Linked DNA regions of Homo sapiens. The protein of the gene in region 2 purifies or fractionates together with the protein of the main gene of each other region. This does not show direct contact. Each region holds a gene or a part of one and is shown on either strand. Other genes may lie near its edges.

Region 1 (3,650 bases), on a different chromosome or scaffold from region 2:
CCTCTGCCTGCCCTTGGCTTCCCTGGCTCTGAACTGAATCCCTCAGCTGGTTTGGGACTGGGCAGCCAGAGCAGAGAGCTCCAAGGCCCGGCCTCTTCCCTCAAGCCCGCCTGTTCCTGCATTCACTCTCCAGACAAGGTGCTCATCTACTCTGTGCAACCGTACACGAAGGAGGTGCTGCAGTCACTCCCGCTGACTGAAATCATCCGCCATTACCAGTTGCTCACTGAGGAGAATATACCTGAAAACCCACTGCGCTTCCTCTATCCCCGAATCCCCCGGGATGAAGCTTTTGGGTGCTACTACCAGGAGAAAGGTGGGAATCGTTGACATACTTCATTGCTAGATTGCAGAGATCTACCAGACATCCATAGATCCCACTCCTTCCTTTAAAGCATGGGAAAACTGATATCTAGAGGAATTAAGGGATTCGTCCATGGGATACTGCTGGTTACTATGGGGATGAGACTGCCAGGACCATCTGCACTAGGGGAACCTCAGGCTATATGTCTGGCCCACTGATCTTCTCTGCTTCTTGTATATGTTCCTCACAGTTAATCTCCAGGAACGGAGGAAATACCTGAAACACAGGCTCATTGTGGTCTCTAATAGGTGAGATATGAACTCTTCATTCATCCTCCCTAATCCTTTTTGGCTCTGCTTCAGTGAATCGTCAAAAGGGGGCATTACCTTCTCCTGGGTGGAGCACCAGGATGATGGTCAGCTGCTCTGCCCTGCCATTCCCACAGCCTCTCCTTTCTGCCTTCTCCTAAGCTGCCCTATTCCAGTCTCCCCAGCCTTCCCTCCCTCCTAGCCCACTCTAGTTTTTTCTGGTTCTAGTCTCTCCTATCTCATATTTTTCTGCTGCCATCCTTAGGTTGTCTCCACAGGGGTTTCTGGATAATAATGATCATAATCACTGGTGTTAATGGGTACCTACTTGATGCAAGCATGGAGCTTTTTTTTTTTCCAGACAGGGTTTTGTTCTGTCGCCCAGGCTGGAGTGCAGTGGTGTGATCCTGGCTCACTGCAGCCTCGACCTCCTGAGCTCAAGCAATACAGGCATGCATCACCAAACTCAGCTAATTTTTTTTGTATTTTTTGTAGAGATGGGGTCTTACCATGTTGCCCAGGCTGTTCTTGAACTCCTGGACTCAAGCAATCCACCCACCTTGGCCTCCCAAAATGCAGGGATTACAGGCGTGAGCCACCACACCCCGCATATATATATATTTTTTTTTTTTTTTTTTTTTTTTTTTTTTGAGACAGGGTCTCTGTTATCCAGGCTGGAGTGCAGTGGTATAATCATGACTCACTGCAGCCTTGACCTAGGGGTTGAAGCAATGCTCCTGCCTCAGCCTCCCAAGTAGCTGAGACTACAGGCACACGCCATCACACTCAATCACACTCAGCTAATTTTTTAAATTTTTTGTAGGGATGGGGTATCACTGTGTTGCCCAGGCTGGTCTTGAACTCCTGGCCTCAAGCAGTCTCCTGCCTTGGCCTCCCAAATTGCCGGGATTGTAGGAATGAGCCATGGCACTTGGCTGGGGATAGAATTTTTTTTTTTTTTTTTTTTTTTTTTGAGACAGTCTCACTCTCATTGCCCGGGCTGGAGTGCAGTGGTGCAATTTCAGCTCACTGCAACCTCTGCCTCCCAGGCTCAAGCAATTCTCCTGCCTCAGCCTACTGAGTAGCTGGGATTACAGGCGAGCGCCACCCATGCCTGGTTAATTTTTGTTTTTTTTTTGAGACAGAGTCTCGCCCTGTTGCCCAGGCTGGAGTGCAGTGGCACGATCTCAGCTCACTGCAACCTCTGCCTCCCAGGCTCAAGCAATTCTCCTGCCTCAGCCTCCTGAGTAGCTGGGACTACAAGCGCGCACAACCACCACACCTGGCTAATTTTTGTATTTTTAGTAGAGACAGGGTTTTACCATATTGGCCAGGCTGGTCTCAAACTCCTGACCTCATGATCCGCCCACCTTGGCCTCCCAAAGTGCTGGGATTACAGGCGTGAGCCTCTGCACCCGGCCTAACTTTTGTATTTTTAGTAGAAACAGGGTTTCACCATGTTGGCCAGGCTGGTCATGAGCTCCTGGCCTCAAGTGATCTGCCCGCCTCAGCCTCCCAAAGTGCTTGGATTACAGGTGTGAGCCACCATGCCTGGCCTGAGAGTTTATTATGCGCCAGGCACTAGGCTAAATGGTTTGCATTTATTTTCTCATTTTATTGAATCTACAAAATAGTCCTGTGAAGTAAACACTGTTACTGTTTTCAGCTAAGGAACTGGATTTAGAGTAGTCAAGTTTTGTACCTAAGGTACGTGGCTAATGATACAGGTCTGTTAGATTCCGTAGCCCTGATTTTAACCACCCTACTGCCTCTCAAGAATTACTAGGTATTGTTCTCATTTATAGATGATAAATCTGAGGCTCAGAAAAGTTAGGCCACTTGCCTAAGGTCCCCCAGCCAGGATTCAAACTCCAGGAGGCCTGATTCCAAACCCATGCTCTTTAGCCCTCCGCCCTACTGCCTTCTTAGACTAGCTTCTGCTTATTCTACCATTCCTGATTTCATTTGAACCACTGAGCCCTGCCCCTTTGTCTGTCTTTGGGTATCCAGACAGGTGGATGAACTGCAACAACCGCTGGAGCTTAAGCCAGAGCCAGAGCTGGAGTCATTAGAGCTGGAACTAGGGCTGGTGCCAGAGCCAGAGCTCAGCCTGGACTTAGAGCCACTGCTGAAGGCAGGGCTGGATCTGGGGCCAGAGCTAGAGTCTGTGCTGGAGTCCACTCTGGAGCCTGTGATAGAGCCCACACTATGCATGGTATCACAAACAGTGCCAGAGCCAGACCAAGGACCTGTATCACAGCCAGTGCCAGAGCCAGATTTGCCCTGTGATCTGAGACATTTGAACACTGAGCCAATGGAAAGTAAGTGATGAGATGGAGCTATGGAAGATGGCACACATTCCCTTTCCTACCTCTTCTCCCTCTCCCATTACAGAAAAAGCTGAACTCCAAGCTCCTCATTGGAGAGAGGTCCATTCTGTGATTCCTTTTTTTAGGAATTACACATGCCTTCCCCCACCTCCCTGCTCTTTCATCCCACAAGTTCCCACTCAGGCTCTTCCCAGGCCTTTCCTGCCATCCTCCCTCCCTTTCCCTGCTGGGTTGGGAACTCCTAACTAAGATCGGGGCCTCACTTTTCTCTCTGGATTACCTAGTCTTCAGAAACTGTGTAAAGATTGAAGAAATCATGCCGAATGGTGACCCACTGTTGGCTGGCCAGAACACCGTGGATGAGGTTTACGTCTCCCGCCCCAGCCACTTCTACACTGATGGACCCTTGATGCCTTCTGACTTCTAGGAACCACATTTCCTCTGTTCTTTTCATATCTCTTGCCCTTCCTACTCCTCATAGCATGATATTGTTCTCCAAGGATGGGAATCAGGCATGTGTCCCTTCCAAGCTGTGTTAACTGTTCAAACTCAGGCCTGTGTGACTCCATTGGGGTGAGAGGTGAAAGCATAACATGGGTACAGAGGGGACAACAATGAATCAGAACAGATGCTGAGCCATAGGTCTAAATAGGATCCTGGAGGCTGCCTGCTGTGCTGGGAGGTATAGGGGTCCTGGGGGCAGGCCAG
Region 2 (3,650 bases):
CCTGCTGCCCGGCAGACCTGTGGTGGGAGTGTTGGTTGCCCTACCTGGGGCCACATCTTTGTCCGGTGCTGCCAGCTTCATGATTATCACTTTCTCCCCACCTGAAACGCCTTTCTGGGCTCATGGCATGGCTGGCATTCCTTGGCCCACTGTTTCTCAGGTCCACATAACCTCCTTGTTGTCTGACCACCTTCCCAAATGTTGCCCAATCCATCCTGTCTTATTTGTTTTTGCACTAACCACAGATAATTATTCGTTCCCATATTACTTGCCTTCATCTTCCTAAATGCATCTTCTCGAATGCAGGCACCATAATCAGAGATGCCATGCGGTCATCCTCTTTCTGTTTCCAGCAACTATAGCAGGGGCTGGGTCCTAGCAGTTGCCTACGTAATATTGCTAGAATTAATGAATGAGAACAGAGTCTTAAAAGGCAAATTCTGGCCAGGCACGGTGGCTCATGCCTGTAATCCTAGCACTTTGGGAGGCCGAGGTGGGCGGATCACTTGAGATCAGGAGTTCAAGACCAGTCTGGCCAACATGGTGAAACCCCATCTGTACTAAAAATATAAAGTTTAGCTGGGTGTGATGGTGCATGTCTGTAATCCCAGCTACTCGGGAGGTGGAGGTTGCAGTGAGTTGAGATCGTGCCACTGCACTCCACCCTGGGTGACAGAGTGAGACTTTGTCTTTAAAACAAAAAAAAAAAAAAAGCAAATTCTACCTCACTTTTAGTCCCAGTTGCCCTGGACTGCTTTGTTTTGGCCAAAAATTATGTTGTGTCCTCCCCTGTGTCCTCCCACAATGAGACCCCTTCCTTGCCACAGACAAATAGGGCTCTGCCTGGAGGCATTGTCAGAACCACTCCAGATGGAGTCTGTGGCCTGGTTCTATTCTATCAGAACTTATCGAAGATCCTGAAACATTTTCTGCAAGACATACTCCAGGATCTTTTTGGAGCCTGGCTCCCATGCCACGGTCCCCTCCTTTCCGTCTTCTAGGATTCTACAGTAAGATCTTGGATAGAATGGGTGGGGCCAGCAGGGTCTGCTTGTGAGTGACCAGCTACCACAGTCGCTGTGCTAAGGGGAGCGTGAGAGTTACTTTGTCCCCTTTTCACTTGCCTGTGGACAGCAGGTGGAGGTCTAGCTGGATGTTTTCTGGGTGATGTTTGTTCTGAGCACCATCACGGTCCCAGGCCACCAGACGTGCTGTGTGCACCTGCTTTCCCAGGGCGGCTCCAGTGCAGGGGCTCATTCTACAGCCACACGGGCACGTGGGAAGCCGGGGCTCCAAACCTTGTTGTGGTTTCTGAGGACTCTGGCTGTGGCTTTGCACAGTCCCCTTGCAACCTCCCAGGCCTCACTCTCCAGCAGCTCAGGAGGCAGGAGGCTGCAGGTGGTGCTGCTGCCCTCCTGCTGGAGGGATCTGGTGTTTGTAAAGCATGGGCAGGGGAGTGTCCATGTCATGAGGAATTCTTACTCCTGGGGAGGAGCAGCAGCCTGGAAAAAGTCCTGATTCTTGAGATTCAAAGCATGAGTCTGAAGCAGCTGGAGCCAGGCCAGCCTTACCTGTGCGGGGTGTTCTGTCCTATAAACACCTGAGTCAAACACAGGCTGTAGATTTTGCTGGGTGAGAAGGGAAGATCCCTGGATGGCTGGGGATATTGACAAGACACGAATTCCTGGGGACTGTAGGGATTTACCTTTGTAGCCCTCTCGCTGCCTGCACCTCCATTCTCCCTCCAGATAAGGGAACCATCCACCCAAACACTCTGTGCCCTGGGGCTGTGTCGCCCTCGCTGTGCTCTTGGCAAGTCCCTGTGATGCATGATTAAAGCAACTGAGAGTAGATTTAATTTCTTGGTTGGTCTTTCCCTTTTCAAAATGAAAGTTTTAAGTGTGGGGACTTTCTTACAACATGATTATTCTGTACATTTCCAAAGAAAGAAGAATCTGCCCTACATCTCAGGCTGCTCTCCAGCCTGCACCTAAGCTTTATTTTCTTCCCAGAGACTGTGCTAGGCTTTGTAGTAACACTTCTCCCCGCTGCCGCATGTGATTTTGCAGAGCGGCATCCTTCTTGCTTCTCCAGCTTATTCTCTGTTTGTCTCATGCTCCTATAAATACTCAGGCCCTGCCACAGTTTCTTTAGCAAGCTGTCACTGAATCCTCAAGATAATTTAAGAGGAACACATTTTTAAAGTTGCCTTCTGCAGTCGTCCATGTGTAACAGTTAAGAGTTAAAAGCAGGACAATCTGGTGCCCCGGAGCTTGCTTTCTGGAAGGGAAGAAAACCCTTTGTCTTTGGGGTCTCTAGCCTCGACAGGGCCATGTGGCTCGGTGGCCAGCAGGTCAGAGGCCTCTGCCTTTAATTCTCTTTGAATTAGATCTCAGAGTCTTCCCCAGTGCTAACCGTGGCTCTGTGCTGACTCAGGCTCTACCACTGTGGATAAATCACCTCACCTTGGGGACCTGAGCTTGCTTGGCTGTGAAGTGATGGCTGAGATGTGCTCCCACTTCTCACAGCAGTCTCCTGGAACAAGGCCTGGGCCCAGGAGGGCAGGTGCACCAGGATGTGGGCTGGCTTTTATTGTGTAGCTTTGGGTAGGACCAGCCATGTCCCCAAAGCACAACAATTTATGTCAACTGACATTGGCGCCAACTTGGCCGGTTTTATGTGAGTGCCATGGGCAACACCAGCATTGTCCAGAGGAAACTAAAAGTTGGGATCTGGATCCCAGGCCTGGCTCTCCCCCTTGCATGGGAGGTGAATTCAGGCAAGTCCTTTCTGGGCCTTGGTTTATGGATGTGACCCTGGCCACCTCGCCAGGCAATAGAAGAACCAGGACCCCAAATATTTGTTGTTCTCTTCTGAACACATCTCCGTGTGCATATCTGAGGGGCACTGGAAATCCAGCATGTCCAGAACCAGATCTTTCCCCCAGCCTGCATCTCTGTCCTTCCAGACTCAGCCTGCAGCCCCCATTCATCTCCCTGGATGACTGCAGACCCTGGAATCAAGCTCAACTTGCTCCTCCTGCCTCAGCATCCCTGGGTCGAGTGGATTTACCCTCAGAACACCCGGTGTCCTTCCTCTCCGCCCACCTTCCACTGCTCTAGTCCAGAACTCCAGCAGTTTCCTCCTTGGCCATTGAAACAGCTTAGTCTCCCTCACTCTCTGTATTCTCTCCCTCTCCAGTTACCAGAGTCACCTTAGGAAAACTGGCAAACTCCTTCTCAAATCCCTGCTTATCCTTCAAAACCTAGGTCACACGTCACTCCTTCTTTCTGTGGATTTTCTAGAATAACAAAGTCCACCCTCCCCCCTGCCTCATCCACACACCTCTGGGATGAGTTACTGCTCTGGCAGCATTGTCTCTAGGTTTCCATGAGAGCCTGTCTCCTGTGGGATCGTAGCTGTCTTCCCCCAGGTCTGTGAACTCATTGAAGGATGGACCATGTTTAATTCATCTTTTGTCTGCAGTGCATTTAGCACAGTGCTGGCTCTGAACCTGCTCTATTTGTTTGTTGAATTACAATAAACTGATGAACTGAACCAAATCCCCTCACTTCTAATCTCAGCAAAGTGCTGCCGCCCTATTTTCTGTTTTCATTTAAAATTTATACATTTGTATAATTCTATTTATT

The links. Proteins that work in one complex are often made in the same cells at the same time.
Region 1: the proteins of INSYN2A (region 2) and STAT2 purify together in Homo sapiens (affinity purification with mass spectrometry; 2 studies listed by BioGRID and IntAct, with this or other methods). This does not show direct contact.

Annotation. Positions count from the first base shown.
Region 1 is NC_000012.12:56,343,108-56,346,757, reverse strand, and holds part of STAT2 (signal transducer and activator of transcription 2), read left to right. Parts: intron 1-133; coding exon 134-316; intron 317-554; coding exon 555-612; intron 613-2,622; coding exon 2,623-2,933; intron 2,934-3,226; coding exon 3,227-3,369; 3' UTR 3,370-3,650. UniProt on the Homo sapiens protein: Signal transducer and activator of transcription that mediates signaling by type I interferons (IFN-alpha and IFN-beta).
Region 2 is NC_000010.11:127,140,979-127,144,628, forward strand, and holds part of INSYN2A (inhibitory synaptic factor 2A), read right to left. Parts: intron 1-3,650. UniProt on the Homo sapiens protein: Component of the protein machinery at the inhibitory synapses, probably acting as a scaffold. Inhibitory synapses dampen neuronal activity through postsynaptic hyperpolarization.